2 separate regions of the Homo sapiens genome follow, and region 1 is linked to region 2. The links come from fine-mapping of genetic effects on gene expression. Tissue or cell type: whole blood. Region 2 holds a variant in brackets; the other region holds the start of a gene. All regions are shown on one strand. Distances are between the middles of the regions.

Evidence for each region. PIP is the estimated chance that this variant, and not a neighbour inherited with it, causes the effect.
Region 1: it holds the start of CEP295NL, and the variant in region 2 is fine-mapped to the expression of CEP295NL in whole blood (TOPMed, PIP above 0.99).

Annotation. Positions count from the first base shown.
Region 1 is chr17:78,898,807-78,906,910 of GRCh38, reverse strand. CEP295NL (CEP295 N-terminal like) reads left to right here and starts at 3,710. Exons shown (of 3, transcript NM_001243540.2): 1 at 3,710-3,777; 2 at 4,985-5,126. The coding sequence starts at 5,083. All of the region lies in intron 1 of TIMP2 (TIMP metallopeptidase inhibitor 2), which reads left to right. RefSeq lists an enhancer at 3,931-4,531.
Region 2 is chr17:78,811,614-78,819,717 of GRCh38, reverse strand. USP36 (ubiquitin specific peptidase 36) reads left to right here. Exons shown (of 21, transcript NM_001385174.1): 10 at 940-1,051; 11 at 5,166-5,306; 12 at 5,845-5,945; 13 at 6,717-6,858. Among named protein-coding and RNA genes, the nearest start is that of USP36, 25 kb to the left of the region's middle. The variant C/T (reference allele first, on the strand shown) is at 4,656.

The sequences.
Region 1 (8,104 bases), 87 kb before region 2:
ACACAAATAATAAGAAAGTGGGCCTGCCGGCCAGACACGGTGGCTCACGCCTGTAATCCCAGCACTTTGGGAGGCTGAGGCGGGGGGATCACCTGAGGTCAGGAGTTCAAGACCAGCCTGGCCAACATGGTAAAACCCCGTCTCTACCAAAAATACAAAAATTAGCCAGGTGTGGTGGCGCAGGCCTGTAATCCCAGCTACTCGGGAGGCTGAGGCACAAGAATCGCGTGAACCCGGGAGATGGAGGTTGCAGTGAGCCGAGATCGCACCACTGTACTCCAGCCTGGGCAACAGAGCGAGACTCTGTCTCAAAAAAAATAATAAAAATAAAAAAGAAAAGGAAAAAAAAGAAATTGCCACAGCCAACCCCAATCTTCAGCAACCACCACCCTGATCAGTCAGCAGCCATCAACATGGAGGCAAGACCCTCCACCAGCAAAAAGACTGGACTCACTAGGTCGAGATGATTGTTAGCATTTTCAAGCAATAAAATATTTTTATTTTTATTTTTATTTCTTCAAGTTTTGGGTTTTTCTTTTTTTTGAGGCAGGACCTTGCTCTGTCACTCAGGCTGGAGTGCAGTGGCATGATCTTAGCTCACTGCAGCCTCGAACTTCTGGGCTTAAGCCATCCTCCTGCCTCAGCCTCCTGAGTAGCTGGGACTGCAGGTACGCACCACTATGCCTGGCTATTTTTAGTTTTTTATAGAGGTAGGATCTCACTGTGTTGCCTGGCTGGTCTGAAACTCCTGGGGTCAAGCCATCTACCTGCCTTGGCTTCCTAAAGTGCTGGGATGACAGGCGTGAGCCACTGCCCCGGCCAATAAAGTATTTGTAAATTAAGGTATGTGCATTGATAAGACATAATGTTATTGCACACTTACTGGGCTACTGTACAATGTAAACATAACATTTATATTTGGGAATATATATTGGTTTGGGAAACCAAAAGAGTCATGTGACTCACTTTATTTCAATATTCACTTTATTATGATTCTGTGGGAACTCAACCCGCAGTATGTCTGAGGTCTGCCTGTACCTGTAATTTTTAAAAGCTAGCATTTGCTAATATGTGGTTCTAATTGCAGTCAACAATAGTATGGACCCAGACTCTCAAGGCTGAGTTGGCCTTAGGCCAGTAGTGAATCCCATGCCAGAGAGAACATTTAGCAGGGCGGATTAATCCAGAGGATGGGGCTGCCTTCTAGAGCTTGCCAAGGCAGCGTCAGGAGAGCCCAGGCTTGAGAGAGATGTCCTCAGTCCAGAAAAGACCTGACGAGCACTTGGCAGTCGTGCTGGACATTCTGCAAGGGCCATCGAAGGCCTAGCGTGCCATCCTGTTGGTCCCCATGCTATTTCCTCCTCACTAGAACCTCTCCCCTTGCTTTAGAATGGGCGTCAAGGCCACGCTGAGAGGATAAAAGATGTAGGGATCTTCTCCGAGGAAGAAGCATATAGAAGATTTTGTATCTATGGGTCCGTATTAGGGTTTCCCAGAGAAACAGAACCAATAGGCTCCATCCAGCTGCGTAAGATGGGATTTATGTGGGAATTGACTCATGCAAGTATGAAGGCTGGGAGGTCCTGGAATCTGCTGTCTGTGAGCTGGAGCAGCAGGGTCACTGGTGCAGTAATGCAGCCTGAGTCTCAAAGCCTGAGAAGCGGGGTGGCCACTGGGGTAAGTCCTGGAGCCCAAAGGCCTGAGGCCCAGGAGCTCTGAGGTCCAAGGCAGAAAGAAGGTGGATGTCCCAGCTCTCTCTCTTTTTTTTTTTGAGATGGAGTCTCACTTTGTTGCTCAGGTTGGAGTTCAGTGGTGCGATTTCGGCTCACTGCAACCTTCACTTCCCTGGTTCAAGCGATTCTCCTGCCTTAGCCTCCTGAGTAGCTGGGACTGTAGGTGTGCGCCACCACGCCCGGGTCATTTTTGTATTTTTAGTAGAGATGGGGTTTCACCATGTTGGCCTGGTCTCAAACTCTTGAGCTCAGGTGATCCACCTGCCTCGGCCTCCCAAAGTGCTGGGATTACAGGCGTGAGCCACCGCGCCCAGCCTGGATGTCCCAGCTCTTGCAGAGGGAGGGTTTGCCTGCCTCTGCCTCTGTCTCTTTGTTCTGTCCGGGCTTTCAACAGATTGAGTGATGGTGCCCCACCTGGCGAGGAGGGATCTTCTTACTCAGTCCCCCGGTTCAGATGCCAGTCTCTTCCCAGAGCCACCCAGAAATCACGTTTTCCCAGCTATCTGAGCATCCCTTAGCCCGTCAAGCTGACATAAAATGAATCATCAAGGGCTGCGAAGATGGACTCCAAAAGTGGGCGGGGGTAGGGGGGTGGTGGTGGACTGTGATCGAGAACATTCCTGCAGGGAGAATGCCTCCCTTCCCTGAGTCAGGGACCAGATAACCTTTCCAGGGTCCTTCCAGCCCAGGACAAAGGGCTTTGTCTCAGGTTCAGCTCTCCTGAGAATTCATCCTCCCCGAGATTTGGACACCTCAGCCGAATTCCTGCTGTTTACCTTCTTCTCTCAAGAAACAACAACCTGAGGATTGTTGCTTTCACTTCTTCGGACCCAAATCATGATTTCCCAGCCACATTTCTCAGTTGTCAAATTTGTGGAGGATGCTGGAAGCTTCTAGTGAGTTGCTTACAGATGATCCAACTGGCGGCTTACTAAAACATATCTTGGGCTGGGGGCGGTGGCTCGTGCCTATAATCCTAGCACTTTGGGAGGTCGAGGCAGGGGAATCGCTTGAGGTCAGGAGTTCAAGACCCGCCTAGCCAACATGGTAAAACCCCGTCTCTGCTAAAACACACACACACACACATAAATTAGCTGGGCATGGTGGCATGCACCTGTAGTCCCAGCTACTCAGAAAGCTGAGGCACTAGAATCCCTGAACCCGGGAGGCAGAGGTTGCAGTGAGCCGAGATTGCGCCACCGTACTCCAGCCTGGGCAACAGAGCAAGACTGTCTAAAAAACAAACAAAAAACATATCTTGACAATGCCAGTCATCACTTTACCACAGACCTTAAGATGCCAACCACCCAGACTAGGTCAGGGGCCCCCATTTCCAGCAGCTACTCCTGCTTCCTGGAAACCCCCTGCACCGGCCAGACTCCCCCAGTGTCCCATGTTCATCCCCAGCCTCGCCCTGCCAGCTTCCCTCGCCCATCCTTCTGATCAAACTGTCTGTGGGGAACTAGCCCTCAAACGAGGCCAAGTACGTGTGGCTTCTCCTCCTGTGTGGGCAGGTGGTTGACGGGATTCTTTCTTCCCCCGCCTCCAGTGGGTTTCAGTTTAACGATGGCTTTCTGGAGCTGTTTAGAAGCGTGAACAGATGCTGTCCCTACAGGAGAAGGGATGGCAGGCGTTGTCAGGAACCCTGACCTTGAAGTGTACCTCCTTAATGGCCTGACAGCTCAGAGAGAATGACACCCTGGGAGGTCTCCATGCAGCCAGCTGGGGACAAAAAGATGTCCTCTGCCTGGTATGGCCACGAGCATTTGTACATTGCACTGTCCTTGTTCACCCACACCTCCTTAAACAGTGCCTTCAGGTGCCCCCATGGCTCCCGGCTGCTTGAGCCAAATCTTTATGATTGATCCCCTAACCTACACGCTTGCCCCCTGGCTGGCTCACAGCTGTCCCTGACCTCACCCCTGCCATGATGTCACAGCTCAACAGCTCTGCTGTTCCCATGGCAACAGCCTGCTATGAGTAGCCAGCCAGGGCAGAGGCCGGGCTGCAGGTGGAGGCGGGGAAGCGATTCCGGCCACCTTTGGTCAGTGGGCCCCTGAGACCACTGCGGGGCTGAGGCTCTCTGTGTCTGTTCCCATCTGTGGTGAGGGTGGGGTTCTTTCCATGCCCAGCTGTTTAGCGAGGCTCCCAAGAGGGCCCCGGAGAGTGGGCCAAGGAGGGGCTCCAAGCCGTGGGTTCGCAAGGCCAGCGGCAAAGTCCCTGCACCACGGGGCTCCCCACAGGCAGTGTGATGGGAAGGAGAGTGAGGGAAGCTGGTGGGACTGGGTTGGAGATGAATATGGTTGTTGGAGGAGTTGGGCTGGGGGGTCTTCAGGAAGCAGGAACACCTGCTGGGATTGGGGACCCCTGACCTAGGCTGGGTGCTTAGGATCTTGAGGTTTGCAGGGAAGCGGTAATGGACGCTGTCGAGGTATGTTTAGTGAGCCACCGGTTGCATCAGCTGTAAGCCCCCCACGTGGGGAGCTGGCGTCTCAGCTGGGAGTTTGGAGGTCAGTCTGCCTCAGTGTCTGTCTCTGTGAAGCTGGTCAAGGGGAGGCCTGAGCCCGAGCTTGCCCCCAGAGGCTGCCTGCCCAACCATCTCCACCCTGGAGAGCTGACCCAGCCCAGGATATGGATACACACAGATTCATGAGCTGTGGCCCCAGTATTCGGGTGGAAAAGCCTGCTGTGGGCCTAGCCAGGACTCATTCTAACGTGACCCACCCCTGCCCCAGGTGATGCTAACACAGCCAGTCCAAAACCCAGTGCAGGCTGGGCATGGTGGCTCATGCCTGGAATCCCAGCACTTTGGGAGGCCGAGGCGAGTGGATCACCTGAGGTCAGGAGTTTGTAACCAGTCTGACCAATATGGTGAATCCCCGTCTCTACTAAAAATACAAAAATTAGCTGGGTGTGGTGGCGTGCGCCTGTAGTCCCAGCTACTTGGGAAGGCTGAGACAGGAGAATTGCTTGAACCCGGAAGGTGGAGGTTGCAGTAAGCTGAGATCGCACCACTGCACTCCAGCCTGGGCAACATAGTGAAACCAAAACCCAGTGCAGTGGCTTGGGACCCCCGTCCCCCCGCCACCACTGGGACGTGGCTAAGAGTTGGGGAGAAGAGGGCGAAAACCAAGCCTCTGGCAGCACACAGCGTGTCATGGAGGGTATTTTTAGAGGCTAGAACTCAGAGAAACGGAGTTAAAAATGTTTCTGATGTTTGTTTTATCTGGGCTTGGTTCGGATGCCTCCAGTGATGGGCGTCTCACTACCTACAAAGTCAGCCCAGTGATTTCAAGACAGCCCTGGAGACAGTGCTTCCTGCCCTCCTGTCAGCTTCTGCCTCCCTGTAATGTGTTCTGGGTGGTCTAGCTCAGTCATCTGGAGACACACACAGTAAGTACCACCCCTCTTCCCCAAGCATTTCAGGTGCTTCTCGTGGTGACAAGCACTGGCATCTCTGTAGATGGGTGCTGCTGTTGTTATCATCCCCATCCTAAAGAGCAAACTGAGGCACCCAGAGTGAAGTCGCTTGGCCTAGGTCACATAGTACTCTTAAGCACCATACTCTGCCATTCTAGACTTTTCTATCCTTTGCAAACACCCTTGCCCCACCTCACCTCCTTTGGCTTTTCTTCCTAGGACCTTTGGTCAGTGGGCCCCTCCTGACCAAAGGAGTTCATTCTCCTCCTGGACTCCAAGCCTGCGGCCTCTTCTCCCCGTCCTTACCGCCCTCCTCCTCTCCCGAGAACTGTCCAGGAAGACACACCTCTCCCTCGTTCAGATTTGCTCCTTGTTCTTCAGCCCGTGCATCTCCTTTAGGTCTTGAACAGTTCTGGACAGGTTTATTCCTGATCATTTCATCACGGTTTTATTGATTTTGAAACTTTATCCCGTGACATGATCAAATTGGCCATTTCTAGAGCACAGGCACTTCGTAGCTGTTGACCATCATTTAGCTCCACGTCTGCCCGTCGGTTCCTCGTGCGTGGAATCCAGCACCACGTGGGTGTCTCTGCCGAGCTCTCGGCATTTCCTGAGCCCTCCCGGAAGCCAGACTCTGTTCTCGGCGCTTCACACGGGCCGTCTCGTCTGATGCTGTGGCGTCCTGCAGGGTGGGAACGGGCGGTGCCCGTGGACGTGGCGCTGTGCCTGCCGGCGTCCTGGGCACCACAGCGTTGCCGCTTGCCCACTGCCTCCTAGCATGGCCAGGTGAGGTCGGGCTGGCTGGGCTGCACCATTCGCTCGCATGTTAGAGGCGTTTCTGTTCACTCAGGGGACAGTCACGTTGGCCCTTCTGGTGGCCCAGCGTCTTTTGTCCCCTGTGCTGCTCCACACACCCACCTCTGTACTTGCATAGTTGGATTTAGGGACCCACATATAAGTTTTAGATGTGTTCCCATTACCTTTTTTTATCTTGTAAGATTTGGCCAGTTGTGCAAGCTGTTAAAAACCTCTAGGCTAGAGTCTAGCAACAATTTTCCACCTCCCCCAAGGGTTATCTGTATCCGGGGATGCCCACAGCTTTGAATTGATAAGGTCAGGTGTGAAAGCTCAGGCAGTGGTCCTGTGGAAGAGCCCACCACCACCTCGGACTCTACTTACTTTATTAAAAAACACATTTTTTTTTTTTTTTGAAATGGAGTCTTGCTCTGTTGCCTAGGCTAGAGTACAGTGGTGCGATCTTGGCTCACTGCAACCTCCGCCTCCTGGGTTCAAGTGATTCTCCTGCCTCAGCCTCCTGAGTAGCTGGGATTACAGGCATATACCACCACACCTGGCTAATTTTTTGTATTTAGTAGAGACGAGGTTTCACCACGTTGGTCAGGCTGGTCTCGAACTCCTGTCGTGAGGTGATCCAGCCACCTCAGCCTCCCAAAGTGCTGGGATTACAGGCGTGAGCCACCGCGCCCGGCCAAAAAAACCACAATTTTAATAAGCTTGTTTGTGTGGCTGCTGTCAGACAGTTATGACCAGGGAAGGGAGGACACAGGAAGCTCTAAAAAGGCGACTTAAAAAACCCAAATTGCATTCTGGGGTCACTTAGTTTATGGGACCTCTGTTCTTTACATTTTAAAAGCCCTCGAGGGATTTCCTATATTATCATCCCAAAGACAATCCAAAATTTCCCCCAAAGAAGGTCAAATTACATATTCTACGTAGGCGCCTTAGACAGAGAAATGTCTAACTTTCCATATGAAAGGGTAAGCTCTAATTATATGGAAATGTTCTCTCTCTGGCCGATGCCAGCTAACGGAGCCCTTCTATAGCTATTTTTATGTTTCAAAGACAAAGCGCTTGACTATGTGGCCCGGGTGCTGGGCTTCTGGAGAAAGGGAAGAGCATTCTCTTTGTTCCCTTGGAGGGTTGGGGCATCCTGGGGGAGTGGGAACGAGGCCTGGGCTGGGGACATGCGGGTAGGATGGGGAAGGGGGTGTGTCCATGTCACGAGGAACCTGCATGAGCACATTCCAGGCGCTGCTGGGTGTGGGGCATTTGGGAATGGCCAGGAGCTCTACCACCCCTGTCTGGTGTGCAGCGTTCCAGGCTAGGGTGGCTCCCAGGGGAGCCAGGGCGAGCTGCTTGACCGTTCTCAAGCCTCTAGGCCCAGAGATTGCCAGGCTTTGGCAGGGCAGCTGGTGAACTGGCTGCATTCCTGGGCCCCTCCCGCAGGGGCTGGGATAGGATCTGTCAGGGGTGAGGCCCAGGAATCTACCCCTTCACCAGCAGCTCAGCTGATTATGATGCACGTGGCTGCGGGTTGCACTCAGAGACTTGCTGGTGTGGACAGCAGGGAATCACATGGGGGATGCTGAAATGTAACCCAGGTCTCTCAGTTAGACAGCGCTGGGCTGCAGTGCGGGAGAGGACGGGGTGCAGGCCTGGGGGTCGGGGGCAGAGAGGCTGATTGGGAGGCTTTTAAGGGCCTCAGGTGAGAGATGATCAGGGCTGAGCTGCTGGCAGGGGAGGAAGGCAGAGCAAGATGCAGCTTCCTGGAAGAGATGGTTTGCCAGGGCCGCAGTACTCCAAGCGTGGTCCCCCAGATGGCAGCATCAGCATCCCTGGGAGCGCTTTAGAGATGCAGAGTCTGGCGGGCGTGGGGGCTCACACCCGGAATCCCAGCACTTTAGAGATGCAGAGTCTGGCGGGTGCGGGGGCTCATGCCTGGAATCCCAGCACTTTGGGAGGCCAAGGCGGGCAGATCACTTGAGGTCAGGAGTTTGAGACCAGCCTGGCCGGCATGGTGAAACCCTATCTCTACTAAAAATACAAAAATTAGCCAGGCATGGTGGCGCGTGCCTATAGTCCCAGCTACTTGGGAGGCTGAGGCAAGAGAATTGCATGAACCCAGGAGGGGGAGGTTGCAGTGAGCT
Region 2 (8,104 bases):
TTCTAAAGATGCCGCATATATTGTGCAGTAGGGGCTGTGGTTTCCCATTGCTAGGGATGGTGAAACTGAGGCACAGAGAAGTGAAGTGACCAGCCATGGGGCCACACCAAGAGGACGTGGCAGAGCACGAGCTCACATCAGTTCACACTGGCTGGCACCGGGCGGCCGCCCCAGGGACTGTGCCCAACCAGCTGCTCTCTTGCCTCTTAAGGAGTGTTTTCTTTGGCTTTCATTTTTTACTTAACTGGTTTTGGACATTTTTCCGTTTCTGCAGATAGAACTCTTACTTTGTCATTTGTTGCATTTTTAGTAGTGACAGGGTTTCACCTTGTTGGCCAGGCTGGTCTCGAACTCCTGAACTCAGGTGATCTTCCTGCCTTGCCTCCCAAAGTGCTGGGATCACACTACTACAGCCGGCTGAATATCTTTATATCTAGGTCCTTGTAAAGCTGTAGGCACTAAAGAATATATTCTTAATTCTGCTTTACTCTTCTTTAGGTCTGTTTCCTGCAGCTCTCCAAGCTGCGCGCCTCTGCTTCTGTTTTCTCTCCCTGTGTTTGCGCATCTTCTAGCTTTGCTTACGTTGACTTCCTGCCTGCCCGTTTTATCACTCAGCCACATCTGCTTTAATTTGCTCTTTCCTGTGTTGGCCCAAAGCAACTTTTTCCTGTATTTTATTTAGTTTCCTGGTGGGTACAGTACTTTTATTTTTTTGCTTTAGAATCTTCCCACTTTCTGTAGTCTTATTTCCCTGTGGTAGCTTTCCTTTACTTGAGGCATGCTTAATGTGATTTTGAGAGGAGCAGAAGGTCGAAATCTCATTGATGAAGATTCCACTATTACAGAGCAGTTGTTGCTGTTATTAACTTAGCGTTAAGACAACATTTTTCAGAGCACGAATCAATCATTCATTAATCTTTCTCATCACCTTCTTCATAGATGCAAGAAGAAGGTTCCAGCCAGCAAGCGCTTCACCATCCACAGAACATCCAACGTCTTAACCCTTTCCCTCAAGCGCTTTGCCAACTTCAGCGGGGGGAAGATCACCAAGGTGAGCGCTCGTGACACCATCCCAGGCAGCTCCGTGGGCCACAGTCGGCATCAGAATAACACGAAGAAAGTGATAGCCACGAGTTTGATAGCTGCTGTTTACACAGTACCTGTCCCTGTTCTAAAGGTTCTACACATATTGTGAAGTAGGGACTGTAGTTTCGCCCTTGTCCAGGACGGGAAGACAGTCACAGAGAGGGGAAGCAACCTGGGACGCCTTTTAAAAATAGACGTTTCTGGGTTTATCCCAGTGCCAGTGAATTTGAATCTCTGGAGGACAGGGCCCAGGAATCTGCATTTTTGCAAAATCCCTGAATGCTTGTTATACACAGTCAAGTTCCAGGGCCACTGTCTTAATGGATTTACCGCAGCTTCTGGTTGTGCTTGGGCTGGTCCTGGCAGGGACTTTCAGGGTTCTCCAGATGAGTGTGATGAGCACTGGGCGGTGGGACTTGCATTGTCCATGTCCTTTTGATGTCTAGAACAGGTGCCGTTGCATGCTCTGGCTTTTTATGAAATATGGAGTTTAGAAAAACTACTTTTGACACGATGGTATTTTATTGTTTAAATTTCATTTTGTTTTAAGACAGGGTCTCACTCTGTCACCTGGGCTGGAGTGCAGTGGCATAATCAGCGCTCACTACAGTCTTGACCTCCCAAGCTCAAGCGATCCCCCTGCCTTAGCCTCCTGAGTAGCTGGGACTGTGGGCACATGCCACCATGCCTGGTTAATTTTTTAAAAAGTTTTTTGTAGAGACAGCATCTTGCTGTGTTGCCCAGGGTGGTCTCAAACTCCTGGGCTCAAGTGACCTGCATGCCTTGACCTCTCACAGTGCTGGGATTACAGGTGTGAGCCACCATACCTGGCCTATAGTGGCATTTTCATAGAAGATGTGTTTCTTTTTTCTTTTTTCTCTTTTTTTTTTTTTTGAGACAGAGTCTTGCTCTGATGCCCAGGCTGGATTGCAGTGGCGCTGTCTCCACCTTCTGGGTTCAAGTGATTCTCCTGCATCAGCCTCCAGAGTAGTTGGGATTAAGGCGCCCACCACCACACCTGGCTAATTTTTGTATTTTTAGTAGAGATGGGGTTTTGCCATGGTGGCCAGGCTGGTCTCGAACTCCTGAGCTCAGGTGATCCGCCTGCCTCAGCCTCCTAAAGTGCTGGGATAACAGGCATGAGCCACCGTGCCCAGTAGATGTCTGTATCTCATAAAAATCTAGAGTTCTGTTCTGAGAGCCTGGTTATGTGGTTTGGAATGACACCCTTGGCTGAGCCTCCGTTTCCTCACTGGTAGTGGTGGGGGCTTGCTTAGGTCAGCATTTCTCAAATGTGTTTGCAGATTCTTAATGTCGTAGACTCAGGTGTCGTGTAACCACAAGGGCATGTTTTAAGAAATGTGTCACCAGGCAATTCTGTCACTGTGTGAACATCATAGAGTGCATTTACACAGACGTAGATGACGGAGCCAGCTGTATGGTATAGCCCATTGCTCCTAGGCCACAAACCTACACAGCCTGTTCCTGTCCTGAATACTGTAGGCAGTTGCAACACAATGGGAAGTATTTGTGTATCTAAACATAGAGAAGGTACAGTGAAAATGCAGTATTATAATCTTATGGGATCGCTGTTGTATATGTGGTCTGTCATTGACCAAAACATGTTATGTGGCACATGACTGATGGTATGTGACGTTTAAGAACAGGCAAAATTAATGGTGACAGAAATCAGAACAGTGAATATTTGAGATGGGGGCAATGACTGGGATGTGGGAATTTTCTAGTTGATGTTCTGCATGTCCATCAGTATATACTTGTCAAAACTCTTTGATCTATATACTGAAGATCTATGCATTTCAACAAATCCCACAACTCAGTTTAAAAAAATGATTTAGGCTGGGCACAATGGCTCACAACTCTAATGTCAGCACTTAGGGAGGCTGAGGTGGGAGGATTGCTTGAGACTGGGAGTTTAAGACCAGCTTGGGCAACATAGTGAGACCCTGTCTCTACAAAAAAATTTTGGTTTTTTTGTTTTTTTTTTTGAGACGGAGTCTTACTCTGTCACCCAGGCTAGAGTGCAGTGGCACCATCTCAGCTCACTGCAATATCTGCCTCCCAAGTTCAAGCGATTCTCCTGCCTCAGCCTCCCAAGTAGCTGGGACCACAAATGTGTGCCACCATGCTTGGCTAAATTTTGTATTTTTAGTAGAGACGGGGTTCCACCATGTTGGCCAGGCTGGTCTTGAACTCCTGACCTCAAGTGATCCACCCACCTCGGCCTCCCAAAGTGTTGGGATTATAGGTGTGAGCCATCATGCCCGGCCTAAAAAATTTTTATTAATTGGCCAGTCATGGTGGCGCGTGCCTATAGTCCCAGCTACTTGGGAGGTAGAGATAGGAGGATTGCTTGAGTCCAGGAGTTTGAAGTTACAGTGAGCTATGAATGTACCACTGCACTCTAGCCTGGGTGACAGAGCGAGACTGTGTTTCTTAAAAAAAAAAAAAAAAATTATGCGTATGTTTTTCGGAGTTCCTAAACACACGTCTGTATATGACCCAGAATAATGGCAATCCTGTCATGTGGGCTCTGTGCTGTCCTGGTGCACTCAGCCTACAGCTGCCATGCCAGGCACTATTACTGCTAAGAATATATGTGTGTGCATGTATGTATATATGTGTGTGCACGTATTATATGTGTGTGTATGTATATGTGTGTGCATGCATGTGTGTATATGTGTGTGTATGTGTGCGTATGCATGTGTGCGTGCATGTATGTGTTGTGCATGTATGTATATGCGTACATGTGTATGCATGCATATGTGTGTGTGTATGTATATATGTGTGCATGTGTGTATACGATGTATGTATGCATGTATGTATATATGTGTGCATGTATTTTATGCGTGCATGTATGCATATATGTATGCATGTTATGTATATGTGTGCGTGTATTTTTTTCTATGAAAAATTGGTCAGTTTTGGGAAGACATTTTAGCATGACCTTTCTTCTGATCCAGTTGATTAAAAGTCTTACTTGCGGTAGCAGTTGGCTATATTAATTCAGCACTTTTATTTCTGAAGATCTAAAACCCAGCATTCTCTCCCTTTTCTCCCACCAACAATGTTCCTGTAAAGTGGAGGGAAAGAAAATGAGTGACCCTTCTCATTTGATCGTTAGGAACCAGGTGGTGAGAGAACTAATGGAGATGCTTGACAAAGACAAGAACAGATCCTGCATTGCTTGATGGGACAATAAAGTTTCCCATAGGCTGGCTGGAGAAGACTCACTTCTCAGCATCTTGGTGTTTTTTCTTTGTTTGTTTGTTTTGATTGTTTTGAGATGGAGTCTCGCTCTGTTGCGAGGCTGGAGTGCAGTGGTATGATCTCGGCTCACTGTAACCTCCACCTCCTGGTTTCAAGCGATTCTCCTGCCTCAGCCTCCTGAGTAGCTGGAACTACAGGCACGTGCCACCACGCCTGGCTAATTTTTGTATTTTTAGTAGAGACAAGGTTTCGCCATCTTGGCCACGATGGTCTCAATCTCTTGACCTTGTGATCTACCCGCCTCGGCCTCCCAAAGTGCTGGGATTACAGGCGTGAGCCAC[C/T]GCACCTGGCCAGCATCTTGGTTTTTAATCATTGCCTGGGGGAGCTCCTGCACAGCGTTGCTGCACACCCATTCGCCCCAAATTGTCTTTTTCTTGTTTGTGGCGGGGCAGTTTTGAGACAGTCTCGCTCTGTCGCCCAGGCTGAGTGCAGTGGCTCGATCTCGGCTCACTGCAACCTCTGCCTCGCGGGTTCAAGTGATTCTTGTTCCTCAGCCTCCTGAGTAGCTGGGATTACAGGCAGTGCACCACCATGCCCAGCTAATTTTTTGTATTTTTATTAGAAGTGGGGTTTCGCTATATTGGTCAGGCTGATCTCGAACTCCTCGAGGTGATCCCCCTGCCTCAGCCTCCCAAAGTGCTGGGATTACAGGCGTGAGCCACTGTGCCCGGCCCCCAAATTGTTAAAGACCAGACAAGCTGGGCATTTTGTGTGGTTGTGGATGGAAAGGGCAAATTGATCTTTACTCTCAAAGTGAATTTTATTTGTCTTTTCCTTGATTTTTCAAACAGGATGTAGGCTATCCGGAATTCCTCAACATACGTCCGTATATGTCCCAGAATAATGGTGATCCTGTCATGTATGGACTCTATGCTGTCCTGGTGCACTCGGGCTACAGCTGCCATGCCGGGCACTATTACTGCTACGTGAAGGTGAGAGGCTTGTGTCAGTGCAGCTGCCTCCTGGGACAGGTTTCAGCACCCATGCACATCCAGATGCGGCCTCTGTAGAGCACTTACTTTGTGAAAAGTGTGATGTTTTGTGGTTGTATTCAAGTCCTCGTTGTTGCCTCTCTGCGTGGAGTGAAAAGATGCCCTTTACAGAAGTGTTGCACCAGAATCTAGTGTTCTCAGACTTGCAGGGAGACACGGAAGAGGCAGCCGCTTCTGGTGCCATCCTTAGAACCCTGGCAAAATCGGCCATGGTGATGACACTGCCTGAATGTCCTTTAGAAGGGACAGTTCCTATCTGTTGGGGCACTAGGAAGGAACTGGGACGCAGAGCACACTTTGGGGTCACATTCCGAGTTATGAAAATATTACACGTTTTAATAGAAGTTGTTACCTGTTGATTATTAATAGTGTTTGGAAATGTAGCAACTAACAGATTTTTTATTCCCTTTTTAAAAAGTGAGGATAATGGGATGCTTGTTGATTGTTTTGTTTTCTGCAACATCCTTGGCTGCTTCAGGCAAGCAATGGACAGTGGTACCAGATGAATGATTCCTTGGTCCATTCCAGCAACGTCAAGGTGGTTCTGAACCAGCAGGCCTACGTGCTGTTCTATCTGCGGTAATAAACTCACGCCCTCCCCAGATGAGCTCACTCCCTCTGCTCTTTTCTTATACCGGTGGGCCTCCCTAACCTTTTTTTGTTTGAAGGTAATTGGGAATTCCACTGGAGGGATTTGTCATGTGTCATAGAGACCGTCCACAGGGAAGGACACTTTTTAGTAAAGCCAGAGCCTTGGGAAGGTCAGGACAGGATCCCATCTGCCCTCACATTGATGCTGTTTTGAATGTAAACAGGAAAGTCACCATTTATAGTATTGCCCCAAATTAGAGGTACTGCTCCCTGGATGGTAGCCAGCCAATGCCCCTTCCCGTGTGGGGAAGCTGCCCCTGTAGGGATATGCTGGGAAGGACGTGTTTGTGGGGGTGCTGCTGCAGAGCTTCTCTGGAGGGGCCTTCTCCTGGAGCTGGCTGTCACTGACCTGGAGGCTGGAGACCGTGGCAGCTGAGGCATTTTTGCTGCTTTGTACGTCTCTGCAGAGTGTGGCTGAGGTGTTTGAGGTTCTTGCTTTCTGGTGCATTGAACTCTGATCTTGGAGGAATTCTGACTCTAATTTGCCCTTGCTCTGCTTATATTCAGCAGATACTTGGGGCTGATCTCTCAGCCTCACTGTGGTTGAAAGGCAAAGGGAGATTCCAGAGAAGTGGTTAGGACTGGCAGGGTTTCCCCAGGCCGTGTTTCTGCCTTTGCCCCGCCTTAACTTATTCTAATTCTCTCCGTTTCTGTAATGCCTAGTAAGAGAATTCCCTACTTGTTTTCTTCCTTTGACAGAATTCCAGGCTCTAAGAAAAGTCCCGAGGGCCTCATCTCCAGGACAGGCTCCTCCTCCCTTCCCGGCCGCCCGAGTGTGATTCCAGATCACTCCAAGAAGAACATCGGCAATGGGATTATTTCCTCCCCACTGACTGGAAAGGTATTTGTGAGAATGATGGAGGCCAAAGTGGCTGGTCTTGGTGCTCCTCACAGACCTCCTCACACTTGGGAAGTTGGCCACAGTGGAAGGAATTTGCAGGCAGTTTGCACTATTCTAGTTGATGTTATTTCTTTTCTTTTCTTTTTTTTTTTTTTTTTTTTTCGAGACAGAGTCTCGCTCTGTCATCCAGGCTGGGGTGCAGTGGTGCGATCTCCAATCTCGGCTCACTGCAAGCTCTGCCTCCCGGGTTCCCGCCATTCTCCTGCCTCAGCCTCCCTAGTAGCTGGGATTATAGGTGCCCGAACCACGCCCGGCTAATTTTTTTTGTATTTTTAGTAGAGACGGGGTTTCACCGTGTTAGCCAGGATGCTTTCGATCTCCTGACCTCAGGATCTGCCCGCCTCGGCCTCCCAAAGTGCTGGGATTACAGGCATGAGCCACCGCGCCCGGCCAATGTTATTTCTTAAACTGGTCATCAGCTGACATTGGCTATAGAGAAAGAGGAGACATGAATGAGAAAATTCTGACCCAACAAATTAGAATTGTCATTCACAGATCTGTTCTACTCATGAGACCAGCACCACTTACAGGTGTCGTGACAGGTGTGCCAAGCAAACTTTCTGTGTGCACTCCTTTTATTTCCTTTATAATGCCAAGCAAACTTTTTTTTTTGGAGACAGGGTCTCACTCTGTTACCCAGACTGGAGTACAGTGGCACAATCATGGTTCAGGGCAGGCTTGAGCTCCTGGATTCAAGCCACCCTCCTGCCCCAGCATCCCTAGTATTCGGGACTATCAGTGCACTACCACACCCAGCTAATTTTTAAATTTTGTGTAGAGACAGGGTCTCACTATGTTGCCCTGGCTGGTCTTAAGCTCCTCAGCCCAAGCAATTCTCCTGTCTTGGCCTCTCAGAGTGCCAGGATTACAGGCACCAAGCAAACTCTTAACCGTAAGCGTGTAGGAAAAAATATCCTTTTTTTTTTTTCTTTGAGACGGAGTCTCATTCTGTCGCCCAGGCTGGAGTGCAGTGGCGCAACCTTGGCTCGCTGCAACCTCCACCTCCCAGGTTCAAGCGATTCTCCTGCCTCAGCCTCCCGAGTAGCTGGGACTACAGGCGTGTGCCACCATGCATGGCTAATTTTTTTATTTTTAGTGGAGACGGGGTTTCACTTTATTAGCCAGGATGGTCTCTATCTGCTGACCTCCTGATCCACCCGCCTCAGCCTCCCAAAGTGCTGGGATT